7 linked regions of the Homo sapiens genome follow. The protein of the gene in region 5 purifies or fractionates together with the protein of the main gene of each other region. This does not show direct contact. Each region holds a gene or a part of one and is shown on either strand. Other genes may lie near its edges.

The links.
Region 1: the proteins of KLK11 (region 5) and VMP1 purify together in Homo sapiens (affinity purification with mass spectrometry; 2 studies listed by BioGRID and IntAct, with this or other methods). This does not show direct contact.
Region 2: the proteins of KLK11 (region 5) and SPSB3 purify together in Homo sapiens (affinity purification with mass spectrometry; 3 studies listed by BioGRID and IntAct, with this or other methods). This does not show direct contact.
Region 3: the proteins of KLK11 (region 5) and ZNG1A purify together in Homo sapiens (affinity purification with mass spectrometry; 3 studies listed by BioGRID and IntAct, with this or other methods). This does not show direct contact.
Region 4: the proteins of KLK11 (region 5) and TGFBR3 purify together in Homo sapiens (affinity purification with mass spectrometry; 3 studies listed by BioGRID and IntAct, with this or other methods). This does not show direct contact.
Region 6: the proteins of KLK11 (region 5) and DENND11 purify together in Homo sapiens (affinity purification with mass spectrometry; 3 studies listed by BioGRID and IntAct, with this or other methods). This does not show direct contact.
Region 7: the proteins of KLK11 (region 5) and AP3S1 purify together in Homo sapiens (affinity purification with mass spectrometry; 3 studies listed by BioGRID and IntAct, with this or other methods). This does not show direct contact.

Annotation. Positions count from the first base shown.
Region 1 is NC_000017.11:59,714,154-59,717,653, forward strand, and holds part of VMP1 (vacuole membrane protein 1), read left to right. Parts: intron 1-3,500. UniProt on the Homo sapiens protein: Phospholipid scramblase involved in lipid homeostasis and membrane dynamics processes. Has phospholipid scramblase activity toward cholesterol and phosphatidylserine, as well as phosphatidylethanolamine and phosphatidylcholine.
Region 2 is NC_000016.10:1,779,772-1,783,711, forward strand, and holds the start of SPSB3 (SPRY domain-containing SOCS box protein 3), read right to left. Parts: upstream 2,801-3,940; 5' UTR 2,731-2,800; exon of another isoform or gene 2,262-2,730; intron 2,052-2,261; exon of another isoform or gene 1,995-2,051; intron 1,961-1,994; exon of another isoform or gene 1,945-1,960; coding exon of another isoform or gene 1,876-1,944; exon of another isoform or gene 1,725-1,875; coding exon of another isoform or gene 1,713-1,724; coding exon 1,587-1,712; coding exon of another isoform or gene 1,422-1,586; exon of another isoform or gene 1-1,421. Other genes in the region: cytosolic Fe-S cluster assembly factor NUBP2, read left to right, coding at 3,250-3,265.
Region 3 is NC_000009.12:120,337-123,696, reverse strand, and holds the end of ZNG1A (zinc-regulated GTPase metalloprotein activator 1A), read left to right. Parts: intron 1-242; coding exon 243-311; intron 312-414; coding exon 415-480; intron 481-1,606; coding exon 1,607-1,736; intron 1,737-2,123; coding exon 2,124-2,230; 3' UTR 2,231-2,860; downstream 2,861-3,360. UniProt on the Homo sapiens protein: Zinc chaperone that directly transfers zinc cofactor to target metalloproteins, thereby activating them.
Region 4 is NC_000001.11:91,680,152-91,683,651, reverse strand, and holds the end of TGFBR3 (transforming growth factor beta receptor type 3 isoform a precursor), read left to right. Parts: 3' UTR 1-3,309; downstream 3,310-3,500. UniProt on the Homo sapiens protein: Cell surface receptor that regulates diverse cellular processes including cell proliferation, differentiation, migration, and apoptosis.
Region 5 is NC_000019.10:51,023,817-51,027,787, reverse strand, and holds the start of KLK11 (kallikrein-11 isoform 1 precursor), read left to right. Parts: upstream 1-1,171; 5' UTR 1,172-1,250; exon of another isoform or gene 1,251-1,291; intron 1,292-1,645; exon of another isoform or gene 1,646-1,767; intron 1,768-2,089; exon of another isoform or gene 2,090-2,121; coding exon of another isoform or gene 2,122-2,156; coding exon 2,157-2,196; intron 2,197-2,993; coding exon 2,994-3,150; coding exon of another isoform or gene 3,151-3,154; intron 3,155-3,406; coding exon of another isoform or gene 3,407-3,477; coding exon 3,478-3,743; intron 3,744-3,971. UniProt on the Homo sapiens protein: Possible multifunctional protease. Efficiently cleaves 'bz-Phe-Arg-4-methylcoumaryl-7-amide', a kallikrein substrate, and weakly cleaves other substrates for kallikrein and trypsin. Cleaves synthetic peptides after arginine but not lysine residues.
Region 6 is NC_000007.14:141,660,667-141,664,166, forward strand, and holds part of DENND11 (DENN domain-containing protein 11), read right to left. Parts: intron 2,186-3,500; coding exon 1,990-2,185; 3' UTR 1-1,989.
Region 7 is NC_000005.10:115,865,935-115,869,434, forward strand, and holds part of AP3S1 (AP-3 complex subunit sigma-1), read left to right. Parts: intron 1-735; coding exon 736-827; intron 828-3,500. UniProt on the Homo sapiens protein: Part of the AP-3 complex, an adaptor-related complex which is not clathrin-associated. The complex is associated with the Golgi region as well as more peripheral structures.

The sequences.
Region 1 (3,500 bases), on a different chromosome or scaffold from region 5:
GCCGTGGAAGCTGAAAAGTTCAAGATCGAGTGGCCACATTGGGTAAGGGCCTTCTTGCTGGAGGGACTCTGCAGAGTGCCGAGAGTATCACATGGAGGGGGAGCTGAGTGTGCAAGCTCAGTTCTCTTTTTCTCTGCTTATAAAGCAACCAGTCCTACCCCCATGATAACCCATTAATCCATTAACCCATTAATTTATGAATGGATTAATTCATTCATAAGGGCAGAGCCTCCGTGACCCAATCACCTCTTAAAGGCCTTGTCTCACTCTACTGCCACATTAGGGGTTAAATTTTAACATGAGTTTTGGAGGGGACACATACTCAAACAATAATAGGAGTGTTTGAAAGAAGAAAGGTCAGATACACAAAACTAATAAAAGTGGTTACATCTAGCAGGGAGAGTGGGGAGCAAGGTTTTTCACCTTTTTCAAATGTATATATATAATTATTTTAAAGCACATGAAAGTTGTTCTTGCGTTTTTGTTTTTGTTTTTGGTGGGGGGTGGGGGCGGTGCAGGGAGAGGGCTTTGAGCCAGGATCTCTGTCACCCAGGCTAGATTGTTAGATTGCAGTGGCACGATCACAGCTCTCTGCAACCTTGACCTCCTAGGCTCAAGCAATCCTCCCACCTCAGCCCCCTGAGTACCTGGGACCACAGATACCATGAGGTGCATGCCACCACACAGGAGTAATTTTTTAATTTTTTTGGTAGGGATGGGGTCTTGTTATGTTGCCCAGGCTGGTCTTGAACTCTGGCACTCAAGTGATCCTCTCACCTTGGCATCCCAATGTGCTGGGATTACAAGCATGAACCGCTGTGCCTGGCCTATTTCTGTATTCTCTATTCTTTTCCATTGGCTTCTAACTATCCTTTTACCAATATCACACTGTCATGATTACTGTAGATTTATAGTAATTGTTGACATCAGTTAGTGCAAGTCCTTCAACTTTGTTCTTTATCCCAATTGTTTTCGCTACTCTAAGTTTTTGCATTTCTATAAATATTTGAATTGCTTTTTTTATAAAGCTTGCTTGAATTTGATTGATCTTCATTAAGGCTATACATCACTTTGAGGGATTTATTAGTGTGTTTTCACACTGCTATAAAGGTACTACCTGAGACTGGGTAATTTATAAAGGAGAGAGGTTTAATTGACTCACAGTTCTGTATGGCTGAGAAGGCCTCAGGAAACTTACAATCATGGTGGTAGGGGAAACAGGAACCTTCTTCACAAGGCAGCAGAAGAGAAAATAGTGTGAAGGAGGAATTGTCAAACACATAACCATCAGATCTCGTGAGAACTCACTCACTATCATGAGAACAGCATGGGGGAAACGGCCCCCATGATCCAATCACCTCCCTCCCTCAACATGTGGGGATTACAGGACCCTCCCTGGACACATCGGGATTACAGTTTAGGTGGGGACACAGAGCCAAACCGTTTCAGGGGAAATTGACATAGTAACAATATCAAGTCTTCCAAACAATCAACAAAACATGCTAATCATTTATTTAGGCTCTGTATAATTTATTTTCTTTCTTTATTTCGTTTTAGATTTTGCTTATATTTTGTTAAATTTGTCTCTAAATATTTTATATTTTCAGATGTTACTGAATCTGAAATTTTAAAAAATTATTCCAAGTATGTAATAGTCCAATTTTTATTCCAAGTATATGGTGGAAAGTATTAGTTTTGATCTTTTATCCTGTGACCTTGCTAAATTCACTTTGTTCTAGTAGTTCTGAGCATTTAAAATTTTTCTTTTATTTTGGCCTGTGTTATTTAGGACTGTGTGCATTAACTTCTAACTACCTAGAAAATTTTTTATTTTTTTTTTGTACTAAAGGTTGACATAATTTCTGGCTTATCAGAGATTGTCATTTATAATGCCCATTCTTAGCAATTTTTTGAGACTTGTTTCTTAGCTTATTCATAAGTGTGGCTCATGAAAAAGTTCAGTATCCCTACAGTGGTGTTGCTTTAGAGTAGAAAGAATAGAGGATATAAATGTCAGAGCAAGTGTTCACCCAGACTTTTCCAAGTCCAAATTCGGTAGTTCTTCTACTTTAGTGTACACAACAGTCCAGTGAGAGTATTTTCACCCCAGTTATACAAGTGCAAATGCCCCAGGTATTTAGGGACAGTAAAGTAGGGAGTTTCAGATAGTTTCATAGATACTACGTGAGTTTCGTAGATACTTTAAGTACTAAGAATCAATAGGGATGAGTGTTCTGTTAATTCTAGTAATGGGGAACATTTGAAAATACTAGGACAAGCTAAACTTCTGGGACTGTTTTTTCATCTTGTGTGTATATGTGACTCTGGAATTCCTCAGTGACCACTGAAAATCCTCTCACTGGACTGTTTTGTATAGTAGAAGAACTATTGAATTTGGACTTGGAAAAGCGAGGTTGAACTCCTGCTTTGACATTTATATGCTGCCGACTTGCTATTTGGGGCCCTTGGAGCACTCAGTTTCTCATTTGCTAAAAGCAAGGATAAAAATAACAGTCCCTTACAGATGGCTGTTAGCATTATGTTTGTTAACCTATTTTTAAACTATAAATCACTATACAAAAGTAGTTGTTATTACATACATCCAAAACTCTACCCTTGTGCTAGTTGGAATTTTTTTTTACAACTAGAAAGGAAATTATTGCACTCATTTACTCCATGTGACTAATAACTGAATGAGGAAAAAGAGAATCAGGCATGTGAAGTGACAATGCCAAGGTCTCACTCTTAGCCAAATCTCCCAACTCTAGTCTGGTATTCCTTCATTATCTTAATTCTTGACCTTACTCTTAGTCCTCCAATTTTTATTTTTTTTTATTTTTTTTTGAGACGGGGTCTCGCTCTGTCGCCCAGGCTGGAGTACAGCGTTGCGATCTCGGCTTATTGCAAGCTCCGCCTCCCGGGTTCACGCCATTCTCCTTCTTCAACCTCCCGAGTAGCTGGGACTACTGGCGCCCACCACCACGCCCGGCTAATTTTTCATAGACACGGAGTTTCACTGTGTTGGCCAGGATGGTCTTGATCTCCTGACCTCGTGATCCGCCCGCTTCGGCCTCCCAAAGTGCTGGGATTACAGGCATGAGCCACCGCGCTCGGCCGGTCCGCCATCTTTTTGATGAAAATGTTTTGCTAAGATTGCATTGGTTATGAAAAACTGCAGGAACATTTAGAAGTAGATTAAGAGAAAATGAGAAATGGGATTTTTCTTTTTCTAATCTCTTTTTTTTTGGAGACACACTCTTGCTCTGTCACCCAGGCAGGAGTGCAGTGGCACTGTCTAGGCCCACTGCAACCTCCACCTCCCAGGCTCAAGCGATTCTTGTGCCTCAGCCTCCCAAGGAGCTGGGACTACAGGCCTGCACCACCACTCCCAGCTAACTTTCGTATTTTTGGTACAGACAGGGTTCCACAGTGTTGGCCAGTCTGGTCTGGAACTCCTGGCCTCAAACGATCCTCCTACCTCCCACCTCTGGTACAGTGGC
Region 2 (3,940 bases), on a different chromosome or scaffold from region 5:
AGCAGCACATGTGTCGAACACTGCCGAGCCCGCAGGCACGCCTGCATCCCACAGCCACGAGCCTGTGAGGCTCAGGCATGTGACCTGCAGGAGCTGGAGGCGGGCGGGAAGGCAGGTGGGGGCCTCTCCCTGGCTGGAGCAGGGAGCTCCAGGAGACCTCAGGACGGCCCCCACCCGGTGGGTAAGGACCCTGTTTCCCAATTTGCCCCCAAGGCCTAATGGACCCACCGGGCTTAGGGAGTCCTCACTCAGAGGAGAGGAGCCCACCCCTCCCAGGACACCTGGCTGAGCCGGAACAGCAGCGCAGGGGAGCTGTGACAGCAGAGAGCAGCACCAGGTCACACAAGCAGCCGCCCCGGAAGGACACGGCCCATGGTGACAGAGGACAAGCAGCATGCGTGTGTCAGACACTGGCCTGGCCTGTGGACACGCCCGCGTCCCACAGCCATGACCCTGCGAGGCCAGGAGAGACTGCTCCAGGGCACATGACCTGTGGTAGCTGGAAGTGGGGCAGGGAGGCGCAGCCACACTCCTGCTCTGGTCCGAGGGAGATCTCAGGAAACCGACTGGGAAATCACCCCCCACAGGGACCCCCACCCCTCCCAGCCTCACTGCGCCCGTCAGGCCAGGCAGCTGCCCTCAGGGTCTGCCAAGGTGGGGGTCAGGGGCCATGGGGGCAGGTAGCTCTGCCTGCAAAGCCCACAAGCATGTCAGATCACCTGGGCTGCAGACAGACAAACACCTGAGCTGTTCTGAATACCTTCAGGTTCCTGGCCTCCCTGAGCAAGTGCAGAAATTTTTACCTTCAAGGATCAGGGTTTTTCTGTTTGTTTGTTTTTTAACACACATATATGTGAACAAAGAGTATGCGTTTGTACTGGCAGAAGAAGCGTCTGGTAAGACAACCAGCAAGTTAACAATGGTCACCTCCAGAAATGGGCTGGGTAAACCAAAGAATTTTTTTGTTTTTGTTTTTTTTGAGTCAGGGTCTAGCTCTGTCACCCAGGCTGGAACGCACTGGTGTGATCACGGCTCACTGCAGCCTTGACCTCCCTGGCTCAAGCAATCCTCCCAGCTCAGCCTCCTGAGTCGTTGGGACTACAGGCACGTGCCACCACGCCTGACACATTTTTTAAATTTTTGTAGAGACAGTGTTTCACCATGTTGCCCAGGCAGGTCTCAAACTCCTGGGCTCAAGTGGTCCTCCAGCTTCAGCCTCCCAAAGTGCTAGGATTATAGGTGTGAGCCACAGTGCCCAGCCCCGTAGTGGAGAATTTCTGTTGAATGAACCAAAAGCAACTGCCAACCTCTCCATGCACCATGTGTTTCAGAGGAGAAAGCACAGTGAAGAATGCAGTGTGTTCTGAGGTCCTGTCACCCCTGAGGCTGTGTGTGTCCTTTGCCAAATTAAAGAGTCTTACTGAATGCGGTGCATCCAGGAGACAGGCCCAGGTTTGGACTGGTCCTCTAGCCTCAGAAGCATCTTTTTCTCCGACTGATTCCGTGTTCAGGTAATGTCTGCCTGCCTGCCTAGGGCATCTCCACACCTTAGGCCAGCCACGTCCGCCTCGCCCGCTGGAACCTACCTGCCCATCAGAGTCGTAGCCCCAGTTAGTGGAGCCTGCTAGAGCCACGGCCCGGGCATCTGCGTCTCGGCGGGCTGCACTCAGGACGAAGTGCCAGGCCCTGCTGTTCCGGGGGCGTCTGGCCATGGTGGAAAGAATCTAGAAGAAAACACAGGCTCTGGGCAAAGGAAGACTCACAGCACTCCCAGCCCTGAGCTTCCAGGCTGGGCCACGGACCCACTCAAAGTGGGGACTGCAGGGGCCGCACCGGTGCCCAGCCAGGGCTCCAGAACGCTTCAGGAGCCCGTACCTCACTCCAGGATCTGAGCAGCTCAATAAAACCCAGGTAGATCCTGTGAAACGCCACCCAGACACCCATGACTCCGGAATGCGAATCCCAGCCCCTCTCTCCGGTTCCACCTCACGAACCTGGCTGCCCCGCCCGCCTGTCCCGCAGGCATCTAAAACCTCCACTCGCTCCTCCTCTGTCGTCCGGTTTGACAAATGGCATCTCCGGCCTCCCAGTTCCTCATGCCAGAAGCACCGTGACCGCTCCCCGACACCTTCCCCTCACGCCCGGCCCGACCGCCGCACCCGCCTGCATCCTCCTCCCGCCACCGTCTCCTGGGCCGCGCAGCTCGCCTTCCCCTCCGCTCGCTACCGCCAGGGCTCCTCGTGAAACACAAATCTTAAAACCTGCTCAGCGCTGGCCGCTGTTATGGTATAAAATGCAAAAGGCTGCGAGGGCCAGGTCTGCGCTTCCCAGGCCACCTGCCTGGCACCTCCCTCGCCAGCTCCGGGGTTCCCGCCTAGCCTTCCAGGGCCGACCCCTGCGCCGGGCTCGCGGCTGGCAACGCCCGCTGGGCCCCGGGTGGGGTTCCAGGGAGGCCGGGGCGGATCGCGGCGCCCGGACCGCCGAACCCTGCCCAGCCCCAGGCGAGCGCGTGTGCAGCGGGAGCCGCCCTCCCCGGCGGCAGCCCGGCCTGGCTGTTCCCTCCCGCGGGCGCGCGGGTTCCGGAGTCGGCGGCACCGGGGAAGCCTCTCTCGGGCGCGGCCCTCCGGAGAGGAACAAAGGCGGCGCCCTGGCCGCGCTGCTACCGCCGCGCCCGCAAGGTCAGCGCGCCCGCCCAGAGCCCGAGACGTCGGCCCGTGCCCCGCCACTCACCTGCAGCCCCCGCTGCGCGCTCCGCCGGCCCGGCCCTGACCCACTTTCCGCCCCGGAGCGAGACGTAAACAATCCCCGCCCCCTGCGCCCATTGGCTCCGGCGGCGAGGGGCGGGCACACCTGTCTCGGAGCTTCGGGAGAGGGGGCGGGAGTCGGGTGACAAAGCTATTGCCGAGAGGTTTCAGGAACTGTCAGTCCTAATCCAACGTTCCTATTGGTCAGTTCCCAAGCGGTTGGAGACAAAGCTCGCGCGCACATTGGACCCGGGTGGGAGGTGGTACCGCAGGCCGCGTTGACCGGAAAGTAGGTCCGTGTCATCGTCTGCGCCGGAACCTGCGGGACCGGATCGAGAGCTCCTCCGGCAAGCTGATTGGCTGGGACAGCAGGATTAGGCCTGTCAAGAAGAGCCACGGGCGGGCACGCACTGCCCATTGGTTGGAAGGCCCTTCGCTCTAGCTGGGAGGCTGACGGCCCGCGGGCGTAAGCGGACTGCAGCCGCGAGCTCCTGGAGGCGGCGGGATGGAGGCGGCGGCCGGTGAGTGGCGGGCCAGGGTGCGGAGCCGCTCCAGGGCCTCGCTTGGGGCCCCGCCGCGTCCCTTCCCGGGGCGGCCTCGCTGCGTCGCGCGCCTCCGGTGCGACCATCACCGGCCGGCGTGGCTGGGCCGGGCCAGAGGCCGCGGCGCGGGCATTTTCTAAACAGGGTCGTTTCCCGCGTGCTCCTGCTTCGATGTGGAAGCTCCGTGATCTCGGAGGGCCTGAGTCGTGGAGTTGGGGGAGCTTTTAAAGTTAACTTTGTTGAGCACCGCGTTGTAGGCGGGCGCGGTGGCGCCTGTGGGCCCCGCTATCCTGGAGGTCGCGGTTGCAACTGCACCGCAGCCCGGGCAAGAGCGAGACCCTGTCTCTAAATAAATCACACGCGCGCAGTCATGAAAGTAAGACGGACGCCAGAATCTCACATGCTTTTAAGTTCTTTGTGGAAGTGGCGCTCTCAGTGTTCAGAAAAGTGTAAGTTGCGCGGGACAGAATTCACACCAGTGGGGACGATCCGTTCGCCAGATCAGCGCCGTGGGCCCTCCTGAGTAGTGGGAGCCGCATTTATCTTCTAAGAGACCTCGAGTCCGATACCAAAAGGAAAACATTCCTCGGACAGCAAGGTCTTGCAGCACAACTCTGACAGATTAGAAACCGAGTGCTGGAGTCTTTTGTTTTT
Region 3 (3,360 bases), on a different chromosome or scaffold from region 5:
TTTAAAATACAAGGTAGTAGTTTGTGTAAATACTAAATCCATTGGTACCTGTGCAGAATGTAGGAAATGGAGTTGCTAATTCCAAAAAAACAGCACATATGCTGAGGAAAGTATAATACCTAATATATATGGTTTAAGCAATGTAAAATTCCATGAATATGTTCCTTTTCATCTTAAAATTTGTGATTTAAAAAACATTGATATTACTATAAAGAATTATTGTTATTTCCCTTGATTTACAGAGTATTGTTACAATCACATTTGAAGTACCAGGAAATGCAAAGGAAGAACATCTTAATATGTTTATTCAGGTGAATGCAATTTTTAACTGATTAATGATTTATCAATGGTTTTGTTACATAGTTGTTGCTATTAGCGATGGTTGGTCTTATTAAAATATGTCACTTGATACAGAATCTCCTGTGGGAAAAGAATGTGAGAAACAAGGACAATCACTGCATGGAGGTCATAAGGCTGAAGGTACAGTTTACTGTTGCAGACTTTCGGACAAAGTCCTTTTCTTGGCTGTTATAAAAACTATATTTGGTTTTAAACAGAAACACTTGTTTTAGTACAAATCATCTTTGTCTACTTTCATTTTTCTTTATTATTTTCGTGACTGAAAAGGAGCTTTGGAAATCACTGCATAAGGCTTGATTTATTTGCACAACTTTCTTTAGGGTTGCAGCTAGAACAAACCTGTGTGCTTTGAAATGTTACCTTCTGCTCTCTGTTCCCAAGTACAGAGAAATAATGTTGCAAATCTCACTTCTGCTGAACATTATGCTTCCTGATGCATTTAGCAGACACTAAACATTTGTCATACTCTAAACAAAGTTACAAAGGACTAGAAGAATTCTTGTTCTGTATTTAGAAACCCACTCACGTTACTTGATATTTGGGTATTTAAGTCATGAAAGGTATTTCTTCTAGGAAGCAGTGATTCTAAAGTGTATGCTTAACCAGTCAGTTGAGTGTCTACTCTTGTGTGTTCACAAGTGTGCACAAAGTTTTTGGTAAATTAAGAATATTATTTCAAATAAATTAATTTCATCCCCATAGGAGCCAGTTTATCAGATAATTCGTTTCTCATTTCTGCAAATCAATACACAATGAGCTCATATTCAGATAAATATAATAGTTTTTCTTTATTTCATCATTGTTCATTGATTGCAACCCATTTCTAAAACAAATTATTTAATATAACCAAACTCCTTTAACTTCTCAACTTTTCCCACGAAAACTGTGAAACATTATATAAAATCTTTAATCAATAGGATATGATACATATTTCATCATTTTGTTTCAGGTTTTGGTTGTGATAAATAACACTGAAAAACCATCCTAATATATGTATTAACTTTATCATTAGAAAAGGGGATTGTTCAAAAAGAAAATCAATACACAGAAACCTTTTTTGAAAATTAAAAACATTAAGAAACTTCTTGTAATTCACAAATAATTGGAATTAAGTAATTTTCTCAGCTTAAGAGTTTGTATTTTTTAAGTGAATATCAGTAATTAATCCATTAACATTGATGCTCTATTTCTGCTTTTAAGTTTGAACTGAGGCTGATTAATGTTCAGTCAATTCTCCTTTGAGCAGGGATTGGTGTCAATCAAAGACAAATCACAACAAGTGATTGTCCAGGGTGTCCATGAGCTCTATGATCTGGAGGAGACTCCAGTGAGCTGGAAGGATGACACTGAGAGAACAAATCGATTGGTCCTCCTTGGTAAGTCTCAAAGGATTCACAGTTTTAAAACAAAGTGAAAAATATATTTGAAAGGGATATCATGTGCCACTTAAACAGATTAACCATTCAGGTCCTCTTTTAAAACTAAATAAGCTTGTGGTCAATGTTTCATCTTTATCACGTTACAACGTTCGTAAAAGCTTGTTAGGACTTTTGTTCTTCTTCAGTTTTAGAAAAGTGGTTAATCCAAGGACCAATGTGACTTTGATGTACTGACCTGGAAAGTTAAAGATGGAATCACTCAATTACTATTCTTTTTGTAAATTTCTAAACACCATAAAGCATTTAATGAACTGGAATTGATAGGTGAACTGTGTCATTTTAATAAGCATAATGTAATCACGTCATATTTTGTTTTGTTTGCAGGCAGAAATTTAGATAAGGATATCCTTAAACAGCTGTTTATAGCTACTGTGACAGAAACAGAAAAGCAGTGGACAACACGTTTCCAAGAAGATCAAGTTTGTACATAACACTAGAGGCATTTCTTATCAAAAGGATTGGATAATAAAAATAAGTTTCTACTGGGTATATTTCAAGCATTTATTTATTACTTTAGTTACGAATTCCAATATACTTTAAAATGGTATTTGTTTTACAGCATACATAAAATGTAGCAAATCAGTACTGTAAAACATTTAACATTCATACAGTTATATATAATATCCTTTTTTTTAAAGAATGGTATTTCACAAAAATATCTTTTGAAATTGGCTTTGGAGTTTACATATACTGAACATGAAAGTTTATAATAATGATGATACAACTTTCAACATTGTCATTTTTTCTTAGAACTTCAGCTGATTGCAGAGATATAATGATTACATTGTTATTAAATTTTTTTAACACAAGTAAGTGTCACCATTTTATGACATGAAATAAAAGGTTATGACTGTTATTGATGTTGATGTTGACGACCTGATCACCTGGCTGAAGGAGTGTTTGTCAGGTTTCTCCATTGTAAAGTTACTCTTTTCCCCCATTTCATACTGTGCTCTTTGGAAGGAAATCACTATGCACAGCCCACACTAAAGGAATGGGGAGTTGTAGTGTACTTTCTTGGGAGTGGTCTACATGATTAATTGAAATTCTTCTGCAAAGGACAGTTGTCCCTTTCGCTTTATTAGTTCGATCATTTATGTTTATCAGTGTGGACACATGAATATTTTATACTTTGGGTTACAATTTAATACTGCTTTATTTTGTTGCTCAAATTATCCCAGCTTTGACCATTGGGAACTCTTTCCGTTATCTCCTGTTCCCACCTTTGACATACCCCCATCAATGTGGGTTTTGTGTTTTGTTTTTGAGTGCCTCCTTACTTTTCTCCTGTATTTTTAAATAACCCCAATCCCTATTGAAGCTGGCGCTAGGAAAACTAACAATACTCCCTTTCCCAGGTCATCCGATTCCTATGCTGATGGAGGAAATTTGCCTCACATGCTGGGGGCGCTGGGATTTTGTGGTTGAATAAGACACCTGGCCTGGCCCTCCTGGAGCTTAGTTTAGTAGGTCACACAAGCAGTCATTGGTAAATTTGGGATTCAAACAAATCTGTTAGGCTCAAACCTGTCTGTTATTTGTCCTCCAAGCTTCATATAAA
Region 4 (3,500 bases), on a different chromosome or scaffold from region 5:
TCCAGACTCAGAGGGCTGGATTTTGGTTCCCTTGTAAAGACAGAGTGAATTTCAGTATAAAGATCACCCGTTGTATTCACCCCACACCCAGGGCTAGTATAAACATGACCCTGGGCTTCTGTACCACACTAGAATTCATGTGAGAAAGCTAAAATGGTGGTCTTCTCCACCAGCCCCTCACAGGCTTGGGGGTTTTCAATGTGAAACACATGCCAGTTTTTAAAATGCTGCTTTGTCCAGGTGAGAACATCCATAATTTGGGGCCCTGAGTTTTACCCAGACTCAAGGAGTTGGTAAAGGGTTAATAGCCAGATAGTAGAACCAGTGAGGAGATGCGGCCAAAGATTCTTTATATCTGAACCAAGATGTAAAACAAGAAATGCTTTGAGGCTTTCTAAGCGATCCTCCTGTCTAATTTGCACCTTTGTCTGGATGCACACTTCTGACCTTGCTGCCACAACCTGTGGGGTCTGATGTGTCCCTTGATGGGTGCTGCCCTCAGGGACTGCACCCTGACAAGTGTTAAGGCAACATTCCTTTCTTGTGCCCTGGGCCAAAACCAATGCTGATGACCTTATCAGCTTCCTGTTTCTTCCCATACTTGCATACACCACTGCAAAATGTCTTAATGCAAATTTTGTATTTCTTACAGGCCTACAGAAATTGAAAATGACCAAAATCAGGAACCACAGATTTGTGCCCATTCCTAATATTTTGTTCTGCAAATTAATGTATAATTTGAGGTGAAATTCAGTTATAAAGTCAAGGACGAATTTGCACAGTGATATATTTCTATGTGTATGCAAGTACAAGTATATAATATGTCACCTGGCACATTCATTTTCTCAGTTGAAGAAGAGAAAATTTGAAAATGTCCTTATGCTTTTAGAGTTGCAACTTAAGTATATTTGGTAGGGTGAGTGTTTCCACTCAAAATATGTCAACTTAAAAAAAAATAGGCCCTTTCATAAAAACCAAACTGTAGCAAGATGCAAATGCATGGCAAATCCTGTCGGTCTCCAGTTGGTTATCTGAATAGTGTCACCAATTCCACCAAGACAGTGCTGAGATTGGAAAAGGGCACTCATTTGGATTGCCTTACTTCTCTTGCCTTAAATATATCCCATATATTTAATATGTCAAAAAGGGCTTGAGGTGAATTTCATTAAATGGAATAATATGATGCCACTTTGCAGCTAAAATAAGCTCAGTGATACCTCCTTGTTAAAAAAAAAAAAAAAAAAAAAGAATGCCAGGGGGGAATTATCATGCTAAATTATTTTACTGCTGAAGATAGCTTCATTGCAAATTATTCTTTTTCCAGAATTTCCCCCAAACAACTTAGAATTCCATAAGTAGAACAAGATAGATTCTACCCCCAAAATATTCATAAGCAAATCCCACTGCCCTTAAAATAAGGAAGTTATGCCTGGTTGTCTGTGAATGGAACCTCAGTAGGTAATCCTGATGAAGCTTAAAACCTTAGGGCAGTGTCTACATGGGAAACAAGTATGTGGAAATTGACAATCATTTTTACCAAATCGTTGAGTAATAATATGACTTACCTGATAGATATACACATTCAATAAGGAACATTTTTTTTTTTCAATAAGGAACATTTTAACTAAAACATTACTTTAGGGCTGAGATTTCCAGGCTATCTACATTGATCTACTGAAAAATTTCTAGATTTCCATATACAAACGAAGAAGACATGAGTTTAGAGAATTTTTTTCCTTTAATTTTTTTTTAACAGAAGGGTATCAGAGTGGAGGACCTAGATTACGCTACCTGTGTTTGAAAATATTGCGCTTTGCCTAACCTTCGGTGGAATGTATTGTTTCAGCATATTCTATGTATAAAAAAGTTTAAAGATGTCTTCAAAGAAGACTAGAGTCTTTAAGTCACTTATAGCTATATTTTACTACAAAATTTGTGTATAAAGATATATTTAAGTGTTTTAGATAAATTTAAGTTACTCCATATGAAATGTTTAATTTCAGCTACTGTGAATTCTTTCGATCAGTCCTTTGCTTTTTTAAAAAATCTTTTCCATCGTGTTAAAAAGAAAATTAGCTATTAGGAGATATTAAAAGATTGATGTCTTAGAAGGACAGGGTTAAAACCTTCTGTAATATATTTAAATATATATTTTTAAGAGAGATGCTACATTGCCAATGATTTTATAAATAATTTAAAATTAATTTACAAATTTATAGATGCAAACCAAAAGATCTTTTTAAAAGAGAGAGAGAGGAAAAAAATCACCTTTTATTTGTTTGGGTCTCATTGTCAGAATTATTATTCAGATCAAGAAATCTGTGTCGATAAAACCTAATCTCATATTGGAGAGTGAATGTCGTTAAGTATTTCTGAAATGTTTCTAAAAAATGAACATGAAAAAAATAAGGTATTTTCTCCCTAGCTTCTCATTACAGTATTTCTAATTGCTTCACACTTTACAGTTTTAATACAAAGTACAAGCTCTACTTTTATAACGTGTACTACAAGTTTCTTTAAAAGTATTGTTGTATTTCAGCTGAACTCTTGTATCTGCAGTCTTTTGTTATTTCTGCAGGCTACACCCTTAATTTGCAGAGGCCATTTTGTTGTTTGTTTGATGCTGAAGCTGTTGTTAAAATGCCCCAAACTCCAAGGCAGATTGTCTGTATAATACGCTATAGCTTTTCACCATGTGGTGTTTACCAGCTGTTACTCTGTATTTTAAAAAGCCAGAGATTTCTTCTGTCTAAACTGTTTCTATAGCATTTTCTAAACAAAAAAAATGGTTTTTTTCTTTGCCTTGTAATAAGATTGTAAATCCATTTCCTGCTTGTGTTCTTAGTGGGCATGATTGTGAGTGTGTGTGGGGTGCTCACACGCGTGCCAGTCTTTTTGTACTGTAACTACCTCATGGTTTGAATGATGATTGTACTGCTGGTTGTGTTAACAGAGCACATTTTGTTGGGTGAGTCCTATGTGATTTTTTTCATGTTTGTTTTATCTGGGGGTTGTTCATGAAACTGACAGATGTTTTTCTAAAAAGGACTATTATCAGTTTCCAAATACAATACTTCTCTCTTCTGGTTTTTCCTGAATGAGCCTGATTTTGTTGCTGGTTTTCATCATCTATGAGGGTAAAACGAGTACCCTTAAAATCCCTGTGGCCAGTTTGAACACCCCTGTTGTATTCTTTTCTCTGTTCAGTGTGTCAGCTATTTTGTGAAGATGCTTAGATGTATAGTTTTGATAACCACAGTTTTAAATCTTTTATCTGTGCATAATAAAAAGATATATATCAGTTATTAATATGTGTCTTGTTATCATTAAATTCTACCCTAAGGCTCATGTAACTTTTTTCACTGTGACTTTCTCCTGAATGGATCGTCTGCTCCGTGTTGATGAGGAAGTGGGAGGAGAAAGGCTAAGAGGTCCAGAGCAGAGGGAAGGGCGGATGGACTAGAAGAAGAGTGCAGCAGGAGCTGTCGCTCTTCTCAGAA
Region 5 (3,971 bases):
CAAGCAGGTCTGTCACCCCCATCTCTCAGATGAAGAAACTGAGCCTTGCAGGGGTGGAGTCCCTTGTCCCCACGTCATAAGGGTAGTCATAGTAGTAGGAAGAGGAAGCACCTAGGTTTGAGGCCAGGGCTGGCTGCTGTCAGAACCTAGGCCCTCCCCTGCCTTGCTCCACACCTGGTCAGGGGAGAGAGGGGAGGAAAGCCAAGGGAAGGGACCTAACTGAAAACAAACAAGCTGGGAGAAGCAGGAATCTGCGCTCGGGTTCCGCAGATGCAGAGGTTGAGGTGGCTGCGGGACTGGAAGTCATCGGGCAGAGGTCTCACAGCAGCCAGTAAGTGAACAGCTGGACTCGGGCTGCCTGGGCGGCAGGGAGAAGCGGGCAGGGGAAGGGTCAGCAGAGGAGCGAGGCCCCAGAGGAGCCCTGGGGTGGAGCACAGCCAAGGGCTCTGTTCCCTTTCCTGGACTCGGCTTCCACAGGCCCTGACCTGCCTCCCCCACCCTCCGGTCCTGCCCCTGTGCCTGGCAGCAGCCCCACCTGTGTGACATCCCAGCACACCCCCCCTCTCCTTGCAAAGGAGAAGGGAGCGGCCTAGGGGAGGCCAGGGGCCCACCTGGGCTGGGGCTGTGGAGAGGGAGTGGCTGGGACGGGAGGAAAAAGAGAGACGGAGATTAGATGGAAGAAGAGGGATTTCAAGACAAATTGCCAGAGATGCAGTCAGAGAGACTGACTGAGAGACACAAAGATAGAAGGAATTAGAGAAAGGGCCACACAGAGCCAGACAGAGAGAGAAGAGTGGAGATGGAGACAGGGACGAGGACAGAGAAAGGCAGACAGACACATAGGGACAGAAAGAGAAAAATCACACAAAGTCAGAATTACTGAATGACAGGGAATGACACATAGAACGAGACACAGATTCAGAGACTCAGGGCAGGGAAAGGAAGGCTGCAGACAGACAGACAGACAGAGGGAGGCTGAGACACAGGGAGAAGAGGGGCTTGGAGAGGTGGCACAGGCAGGCAGCCAGTGCCTCAGAGGCCTCCGGGGAGGGCCCTCACACACACCCCGCCCCGGGGCATTAAGGCAGGGCTTGGAGGCCAGTCATCCTGGGCCCGCCCAGGGCCGCCCCCCTGCCAGCCCGCCTGCCTGGTGCCTGGCACCTGGCGCTCCAACCCAGCCTACCTGCTGTAGCTGCCGCCACTGCCGTCTCCGCCGCCACTGGGCCCCCAGAGCCCCAGCCCCAGAGCCTGTGAGTCCAGGAGGAAAGGGAAGCTGCCCCTCCCCGTCCAGGTGTCAGCCCTCCCCAAGGACACCTGTCCCACTCGGGCACCCATTTCTCCCTCTGCTCTGTCCTTCTCTGCTTGGGTGGGGGTTCCTGGCCTCTCTCTACACCTCTCACCTCCGATGGCTGTCCGCAGCCTCAGTTACCTCTAATCTCCATGGCTTCAGCTGCTGAGCTGGCCCTCTGCTCCCACCCCCGCTGGCCAGGGCAGCGGAGGGCACTGGCCCTCCCCTCGACCAGCCCCGCCCAGCTTTGCTTGGCTGTCCTTCAAAAGGGCAGGGGTTTGGCGGACAGGGCTTCAGCAAGCCGGGTGATGGGGGTCCCAGACATTGTCTGGGGCTGAGCCCCCTACTCCCCTCCAGCAGACCTCAAAGGCTCCATATCGCTCTGCTGCGAAGACAATGAAAAAGGGGTGGCTACGGAACGGTGTCTGGTTCCCCTTGTCCTTCCACCCCAAGCTGCTGGGGCCTGGCCAGCTCTCAAGGCAAGAAGGAAAACATCCTCTGACATGTGCCGGGGAGGTCCCATGGCTGACTTGAACAGGGCCGAACCATGGCTTGACAGCTCAAAGCCCCTCCCAACGACTTCCACATGGTTCTTGGTATCTCGGAAGCTTCTAGCTGTGACCAGGCCCTCTCCAAGGCCACCCTAGACACCTAAGATATATTTTAAGTGTTTGGAGATCTGAGTGCTGTGAGAAACAGGGGATTTCCCCAACCTTGTTTCTCCCAAGTGGGGAGCGGGAGCAGGTGAGGGAGAGAGGAGAGGGCATGAGCCAGCCCCCCCCTCCCGATTTCCCCGTAAAGTGATGCGGCCCCATGTCCCTCCTTGTTCCCAGAGGAACCTGGGGCCCGCTCCTCCCCCCTCCAGGCCATGAGGATTCTGCAGTTAATCCTGCTTGCTCTGGCAACAGGTACGCAGGGGATGGGGGCAGGGCAGGATCCTCCCTCTTGAATCTCTGGGATCCCCTAACCCTCTGTGTCTGGACAGTGACAGGGCTGATTCCAAATTACAGAACAACCCATAAGGCACCTGAACTGGAGCAGTGGTCATGAGGGCCTGGATGCCCTTCTAGATAATCCCTTTAAATGCCAAAGGAGGAGAGGTCAAGGGGGTCGTAAAGGGTCCCGTGGAGGGGCTGAGGAAGCTGGAGTTGGGGGAGCAGTCACTCAAAGCGCCCAGGACAGGGGCTACTGACCAACCAGTATGGAAGTATTTCCTTTTTTTTTTTTCCCAGAGACAAAGTCTTGCTCTATTGTCCAGGCTGGAGTGCCGTGGTGCCAACACGGCTCACTGCAGTCTTGACTTCCCGGGCTTAAGTGATCCTTAAGCCATCTCAGCTTCCCCGGTAGCTGGGACCACAGGCACCTGCCACCAAGCCAGGCTAATTGTTTAATTGTTTGTAGAGATGGGGGAGGAGGTCTCACTATGTTTGCCTAGGCTGATCTAGAACTCCTGGGCTCAAGTAATCCTCCCACCTTAGCCTCTCAAAGTGCTGGGATTACAGGCATGAGCCACTGCATTTGACCTTATGGAAGTATTTTCATCCTTTAATACCCGACCCCAGCATCCAGGGCAACCCAGAGGGACACCAGACCAGGGCCCAGACCACCCACTCTCTTTCTCTCCTCCCCACCCCCATTTCTGGGAGTCCTCCTGGTCTACCACCTCTCCTTCCTGAGCCCCTTCTTTTGCTCTCACCCCCTCCAGGGCTTGTAGGGGGAGAGACCAGGATCATCAAGGGGTTCGAGTGCAAGCCTCACTCCCAGCCCTGGCAGGCAGCCCTGTTCGAGAAGACGCGGCTACTCTGTGGGGCGACGCTCATCGCCCCCAGATGGCTCCTGACAGCAGCCCACTGCCTCAAGCCGTGGGTGCGGGGGCTGGGGCGGTGCCGGGGTGGGGGGCTGGGAATGGGGAGATGGATGGAGAGAAGCTCAGGGATAGGGGTGCTGGTAAGGGGATTAGAGATGGGGATGGGTAGTGTCAGCAAGGTTGATGGGCTCGAGTTGGTATTGAAGGTGGGGGGATGAATGGGGTTGGGATGGGGCTATGGCTGGGAAGGGGGCTTCGGTGGGAGACGTGGAAGAGGTTGGAAGCAGAGCGATGTTTCTTCATCCTCAAAGGTGTCACTCACCTCTCCCACCCATGTCTCCCCCGACCTTTCCTCCTCCAACTACTGTCTCTCCCACCTCAGCCGCTACATAGTTCACCTGGGGCAGCACAACCTCCAGAAGGAGGAGGGCTGTGAGCAGACCCGGACAGCCACTGAGTCCTTCCCCCACCCCGGCTTCAACAACAGCCTCCCCAACAAAGACCACCGCAATGACATCATGCTGGTGAAGATGGCATCGCCAGTCTCCATCACCTGGGCTGTGCGACCCCTCACCCTCTCCTCACGCTGTGTCACTGCTGGCACCAGCTGCCTCATTTCCGGCTGGGGCAGCACGTCCAGCCCCCAGTGTAGGAGCACCAGAGGGGAACCTGGCAGGGGGTGGTGAGGAGGGAGTGGTCAGGATTGTGGAAGGGTTCAGGGCATCAGAGATGCGGTTCACAGTGACGATGTGGGATAAGTTGAGAGGATGTGTGGAAAACGTCAGGATAGGGGGGTGGGGACAAAAGTTGGGGCCTTGGAGTCAGACGGACGGGATATGCAATCATACATCCATAACCTCCTGGTTGTAAGACCTT
Region 6 (3,500 bases), on a different chromosome or scaffold from region 5:
CACTTCTACTCCTGCCTCTAACCACCTACCCCCAGCTTAAAACACCCTGAACCTCAGGATACCACGAAAAATAACCATTACTTGACAGAAAGGACCCCTCAACCCTTGAGAGGCAAGAAGAGAGGGTTGCATGTAAAGGAGAATAAAAGGTGAGGCTTCAACCTCGAAACACAGATTTTTTTTTCTTTTGTAAACATACACATTACTGAAATGACAGCAACCCACATTGCAGAGGAGAAAAGTCTATTAGCTGTACAGTTTACATTTCAATGCCCAAACTTATTTATATATTTACATAAAGATGCTACCTTGATTAATCAATGTCTATTTGCATTTCCACATGTGAATTTCTTCAGTTTTGATATTCCATATGAAGGAGCTACAGTGAAAACACTTTTGAATAAAGCAGTGAACCCTAAGAATCTTATCTTGAGATGAGATGTGTGAACCACCATTTGAATGTTATTTCTCCCTGCTGTGTACATTAGTCTGGCTGGGTGTTGGTCACAGACATGGATGCACTGACGGCTATTCCCATAACCGAGCCAGGCGGGAAGGGGGAAAAGGAAGACATTATTTGTCACCAACAACCCAGTATCCCAAGTCAAAATTCTCAACTATGGCCAAAAAGGCCTAAACTCGACCCACAGGAACTGGCTTTCTAACTGGTTGACAAACACGTAAGCTGCCCTCCTGCAAAAGCCAACCAGAGAACAGGCAGGTGGCAACAGGACCCAGCCTAGAGCAGAGCACTTCAGAAGAGGATGGATAAATCCATCAGGGATGCTCAGGGCTTCCTGACCACTGTCCCGGGTGAAGGCACTGCCACATTTTCTCTCAACAAATCTGTTATGTCCCTGGATCCAATTATTTAGCCTAAGGAATGTCACCTCTGCTAAAGAGAAGTGTGTTTGTGAGGGGTCCAAAATGATAAACCGTCTTGTTAGCATCATGCTCCACCCTCTGAGTTAACCAGCTCAGATCCTTGCTAGATTTTGGAATCCAGTAAATCTGTGTTGACCCAGAGGTGCTGCTGCTAATGCCTCCAGAGAATTCGTGTCCAGATGAAGAGACTTAGAGTGGCTTCTCCATCCTGCTCGAACTTCAATTGCTCTATCCTCCGGTAGTCCAAACTTCAGCCTTTAAAAATACCCAACTTACTCCAAGAGCATTATTGAACCCTTAAGAGACTAAACTGGAAAATTAATTTGCTTGCAAGCTCCAAGGCCAGCATTGGCCCTTAGCAATTCACCAATTCATCCCAAGAAGAGGAAGGTTCAGACAAAGAGGAACATTACATTGCATGGCCACCATCAAGTTACTTTGAGGAAGGTTTCCAGGCTTCATTCTATAATTTTAGTTTTCAGCTCACTGATAAGCAACCTCTTTCATTCTGACCATAAGATAAGCTCATATTTGGTGTCAGAAACATCCTTTTTTCCCTCTTTGTGGTCCCTACTCAAGTAAACAGAGAAGACATAAAGTTGCCCTAATGAACAAGAAAAGGGATTTGATCCCAAGACTATAGACTCCTAGAACTACTAAAAACCTTAAAAGATCATCTGGTCTAGTTTCTGCCTTTAGGCAGATGAACATCTAAGGCCACAGGGGACAGGTGGTTGTCTTATTCTCAAATACATCAAGGGACAAAGACCACACAGACTTTCTGAACAGTCCATCCCAATGTTTCCAGAGCTCAGCCTACTCCTAGTGATACAACTCCCATGACCAAGCCCAGAGGACCAGCAGCTCTGGGAGAAAGTGGCAGATTCCAATATCCTAACATGGCAGGACACAAAACCAAGGTGATCTCACCTTATCTCTAGGGAAAAGGGCAGAAAGGAAATTGCAAAAATTATGTTTGTTGGAAAGTATAAACAATATTCCTTTGTGTCAACTTAATAAAAAATGAGGCCCTCTGGGGCCCTGGGGTGAACTCCGGGCTGCTGACATCCCACGTGAAGTGGCTCCCAGTCCTGTTGGCTCCTCCTACGGGCAACAGGGGTTGTCGATAACCAGCATGACATCAATGCCATAGGCCTCCAGCAGGTCCAGGAGAAAGCTCCGGTCTCCTTGGGGGTCTAGGCCCATGCCCCGGGCATGCTCTGCTGTCAGAGTTTTGTCTTGACTGGCAGACACCTCCAACAAAGTCTGAAATATCCGGTTGTTTTGTTCTAGGAAAAACCTGCATTTGGAAGACAAGACACAGGAAAGGAAGCGGGGGGGAATAAAAAGCTCACCAGATAATCCACATATGGGGAACCAAAACTATACTGTTTTGTTTAATGTACTTTTCAGTGGATTCGCAGGTATCTTTTAAAAAAAGAAAAGAGTAAAAGTTAATTATTCAAGTGCTACTAAGGTTAGCAAAGAAACCATTTGGCATTAATTATGGTGTGATTAGGGAAATCTCTAAGCAAGATGGCCTGTCAAAATCCATTTTCCTGTTGAGGGAAGTGACCTGGGTTTAAACACAGCCTGAGAAGAGGCCCCCAAACACTGCTTTTCTCTCTTTCTGCTTAGTCATAGGAGGAAGCAAAAATTCAACAACAACAACAAAATGAACGTGAGCCAACGTTACCCTTGGGTGTTTGCTCTCCCTTGATGACTCTTTGGGAGGAGTGAGATTATGCACAGATCAAGATTTAAAAGTCACTGCTTTAGAGTGCTTTATGAACAAACAAGCTCTGTTCAGGACAGGGTTCACTGCCTAGTTAGACTAGACAGTCCAGCCCCATACAGCTCTCAGGTTGGCAAAGTGCCTGGTGCCTGAAGCGGCCCTCGGTGCTCAGGAATTTCAGACACAGTGGCACATGTCATACCTGGATGAGACTATGGCTGTGCTCAAGTCTCAGATACTTTCCACCTAAACAGGATGTAGGTTTTAGAAGTCCACTATTAGAATCAAGGTGCTACACCTTTGTAGAAATGCCCACATTAAGTTTTCAGCATCAAACCACAACCTCACCCCTGGAAGACCAAACAGGAAGCTGGGAGAATTCAGTTGATGCCACAGAAGGCTACTTCACCCAGCTGTCTAGGAATGAAATCAGTACTGTGAGGTGGAAAGGCCCTGGCTTCTGCACCTACGGGGCAAAGAGATTTCATTTGATTCAAGAATTAAAATTTCAGATTATCCCATAATATTCAGCGCAAGGAACTACTCTATTCAAAGGAGGCAATGGAAATGAGAAGTCCCTGAGTCCTGAGGGACAGACAGAGCTTCCAGGCAGTGGACATCCTCGATGTAAAAGCCCAACAAGGAAAGAAACACTAAGACTCCTGTTTTCTCTTAAGGGACCTGCTTCTTTCCCTAAGTCTTCTGGGTTCCCCCTAATGGCATTTCAGGGCTCAGGTTTGCCTCTGTAAGGAGCCCGGCTCTAAGTGCCCTTGGCAGCAATAAACGGCATCCCTGGCCCGCAGTGAATGACATGGGAGGGATGCAGGTCACTCAGTGCCGAAGGGATCCTCAGGGAGACTCCACATCCACGGCCCCAGGA
Region 7 (3,500 bases), on a different chromosome or scaffold from region 5:
ATTACAGGCACGTGCCACCACACCCAGCTATTTTTGTATTTTTAGTAGAGACGGGGTTTCACTGTGTTGGCCAGGATGGTCTCGATCTCCTGACCTTGTGATCCACCCATCTCGGCCTCTCAGAGTGCTGGGATTACAGGCATGAGCCACTGTGCCCGGCCAGGACGCTGACTCTTACTGGAATATGAATTGCTTGGTCCAGGTTAATAAATGTTTATTGACCCAATCCTTGGCTTTAGATCGGCTTATATAAAGATGAGTAAGATGGATGGACTCTTACCTCAGTCTATATTTAGTAAAGGTTAAACTTAATTGGAAGCTCCATAGTTCTATTTCTTTCCTCCATTCAAATATAGATTAGCTACACTATTTATATCTTTACCTTTCTGATTCAGTTTACTCATTTGTAAGATAATCAGCTTTGACTAGTTAATATCTAGTTTCCCTTTTACCAGTGTATGTAATTCATCTAATATTTTTTCTTGTTGGTTTTTGAAACTTAGAAATGTGTTACTTTTATTATAGTGGTAAATATAAATAATTGGGTTTTTTTTCTTTTTCATCAAAAAATACTGGGTTTTGCTTCTGTAAGGTATAATTTAAGTCACTTCTCCAAGGACCCCTCTCTTAGATGGATTTCCCAGACAGATATTGCTACCTTTGATTTTAAAAATTCTTAAAATGCTATTAAACCTATACACTCCATCCTAATATATATGAATTATTCTTCCTCAGAGTGAAGATACACAACAGCAAATCATCAGGGAGACTTTCCATTTGGTATCTAAGAGAGATGAAAATGTTTGTAATTTCCTAGAAGGAGGATTGTAAGTAAAGCATTTCATAGACATTTCTAAGTTTTGACTATGTGATTAAAATATATACTGTTTAATCAGTTTATGGTAAAAGTTTTCTACTTTTGATTAATTGGATTAGGTGAATTAATTGCCACCTATGTTAGCTATAAATCTAACTTAAAGAATTATTTTTAAAAGATATGCAATCTTTTTTCCTCTTAAAAATTTTGGAAGGGAATTTTATATAAAGGTAATATATTAAATCGTAAAAATTCCAACATTACAGGGAAGTATAAAATGTAAAATAAGAATCTCTCAACCTTAGTCCTTCTACCCAATTTCTTGTGTATCCTTCTAGAAAATAGTTTGTATTGACTAACATATAAAGTATGTTATATGTGTTGACTAACCTACAACCTTAAAATTTTTATTTATGAGATCACACTTTGTATGCTCATTTGCATGTTGCTGGTTCTCAGTATTTTCAAAAGCTTTGCATAGAAACACATCTAGGACAAGCTTATTCTTTTTAATGACTACAGAGTATTCCTTTTTGTGAATGTTCATAAAAATTAGATTACATTCTTTATTTTACTGTTACAAGACTGAAGTCTGTTTTTCAAATATACCTAATTCAGCTAATCAATTTTTCTATTTTTAAAATGAATAAGAATATTGCCAAATATTACAAACAAATACTTTTAAACTAATAACTTCCATGAAAATGGTTTGTTCTCAAACATAAATCAGTCAGAGAAACTTAGAATTTTCTGTATTTTACTGTGTATGATGGATGAGAAATACTCTGGATAACAGGGAATCCATGGTCATAAGGTACTTTTTATCATGTGGAACACTTAACTTGGGTTTCCTGAAAGATTATATCATGCTGTCCTTAAATGTCCAATACATACTTACAAATTTTGCTGTTAACTCAAGGCTTCTAATTTAATAATTGAGACAAGTGTACCTGCTTCTGTTTTTGAATTTTACTTGTACTTATTTAATTTTAGTTGTCTTTGACATTACTATCACTTCCTCTCATCCTAGCCTCTTGATTTCTTATCTCCTAGGAAACTTACCACCCAGCACAGTGCACTGCATGTAAGAACTTGATTAATCTTACTAGGGTGCTATTTGAATTAGAAATTGTGGCTGGAAATTGTGATTGTTCTTTTTTAACCTTACAAAAAATAGAAAGCAAATATTGCAGCAGAGATGAGGCCTCACATCTAGTTTAATCCTAGTTTTGTCACTAACTAGCTGATTTCCTTGGACAGGTTACTTAAATTCTCAGGCCTCAGTTTTCTCCTCTATAAAATGAGTTATTTGGACTAACAGGATTTCTCAGTCCTGTGGTTTTATATGATGTATTACATTCTGTACAGGAATTTTTGTCAGTATTATACTATAGCTTAAAGATAAGATTATATTTTTAAAGGCAAAATATGTACTTGCCGCATTAATATTTTGCTTGCTTTTAATAGCATTACTGGCCTTTTTGAAACTTATATTCTTCAGAAGTTTGCTGTCCTTTTAAAGTAAAGCAAAAGTTTTAAGATAATCACTAAATCGCTGATTCAGAATGGAGTAAAGCCTCCTATTTGTGTTCTTTTTGCCTCTTTCAGGGAACAATTGCAGTCATAGTCTGTAAATATACTCTCAGAATCTTTAAATTGCATGTAGATATTTTTAAATTAAACATCTTCTCTAGAAGAGTATCTAGCATAGTAGGAAATTTTTATTCTTGTCAAAGATCATTTCTCCTTTTGCTATTAGAAGACATAGAAGTAGTATATACCTTGGGAAGTTGTTTCTACAGAACTTATAAGTTTAGTATTATTTTTACTGTGTAAGAAATAGATGCTGGCCAGGCGCAGTGGCTCACGCCTGTAATCCTAGCATTTTGGGAGGCCTAGGCGTGCAGATCTCCTGAGCTCAGGAGTTCGAGACCAGCCTGGGCAACATGGTGAAACCCCATCTCTACTAAAAGTACAAAAATCAGCCAGGTGTGGTGGTGTGCGCCTGTAATTGCAGCTACTTTGGTGGCTGAGGCAGGAGAATTGCTTGAAGCCAGGAGGCAGAGGCTGCAGTGAGCTGAGATAGCACCATTGCACTCCAGCCTGGGTGACAGAGTGAAACTCTGTCTCAAAAAGAAAGAGAGAGAGAGAGACAGAGAAAGAGAGGATGAAGGGAGGGAGGGAGGGAAGGAAGGAAGGAAGGGAGGGAGGGAGGGAGGGAGGGAGGGAGGGAGAGATGCCATTTTCCCATATTCTGTTGGGATGGATGTTAGTTTAATTTTGGTTACATATAGCCTTGATTGTAAATTATGTAAGTGTTTAGGGGTCTTTTAAGAAGGTGAATTCATTATTGTAAACTTAACTATGAAATAGCTAAACTATATTTAGAAAAATATGTTTGGAATGATTCCTAAATTATTATTTCTAAAATACTAAAATTCCAGTCATTATAAATAAAAGTATTTCATGAAAGAGTTTAGTATCTTAGCTCAGTTTTCTTGCATTTATGTCAAAACAATGTAATTTTGGAAGAGATCTTGACGGTAAATCTATCCAAAACTTAAGAAGTGTCATTCTTCTTTTTTTTCTGGTTGATAATCAGTCTTAAGCTGTGTAACTTACTGTGACGTATGGAGTTAAATCTAGTAAGCACTTACAAATGCCCCATGATCTAATTTCCGCC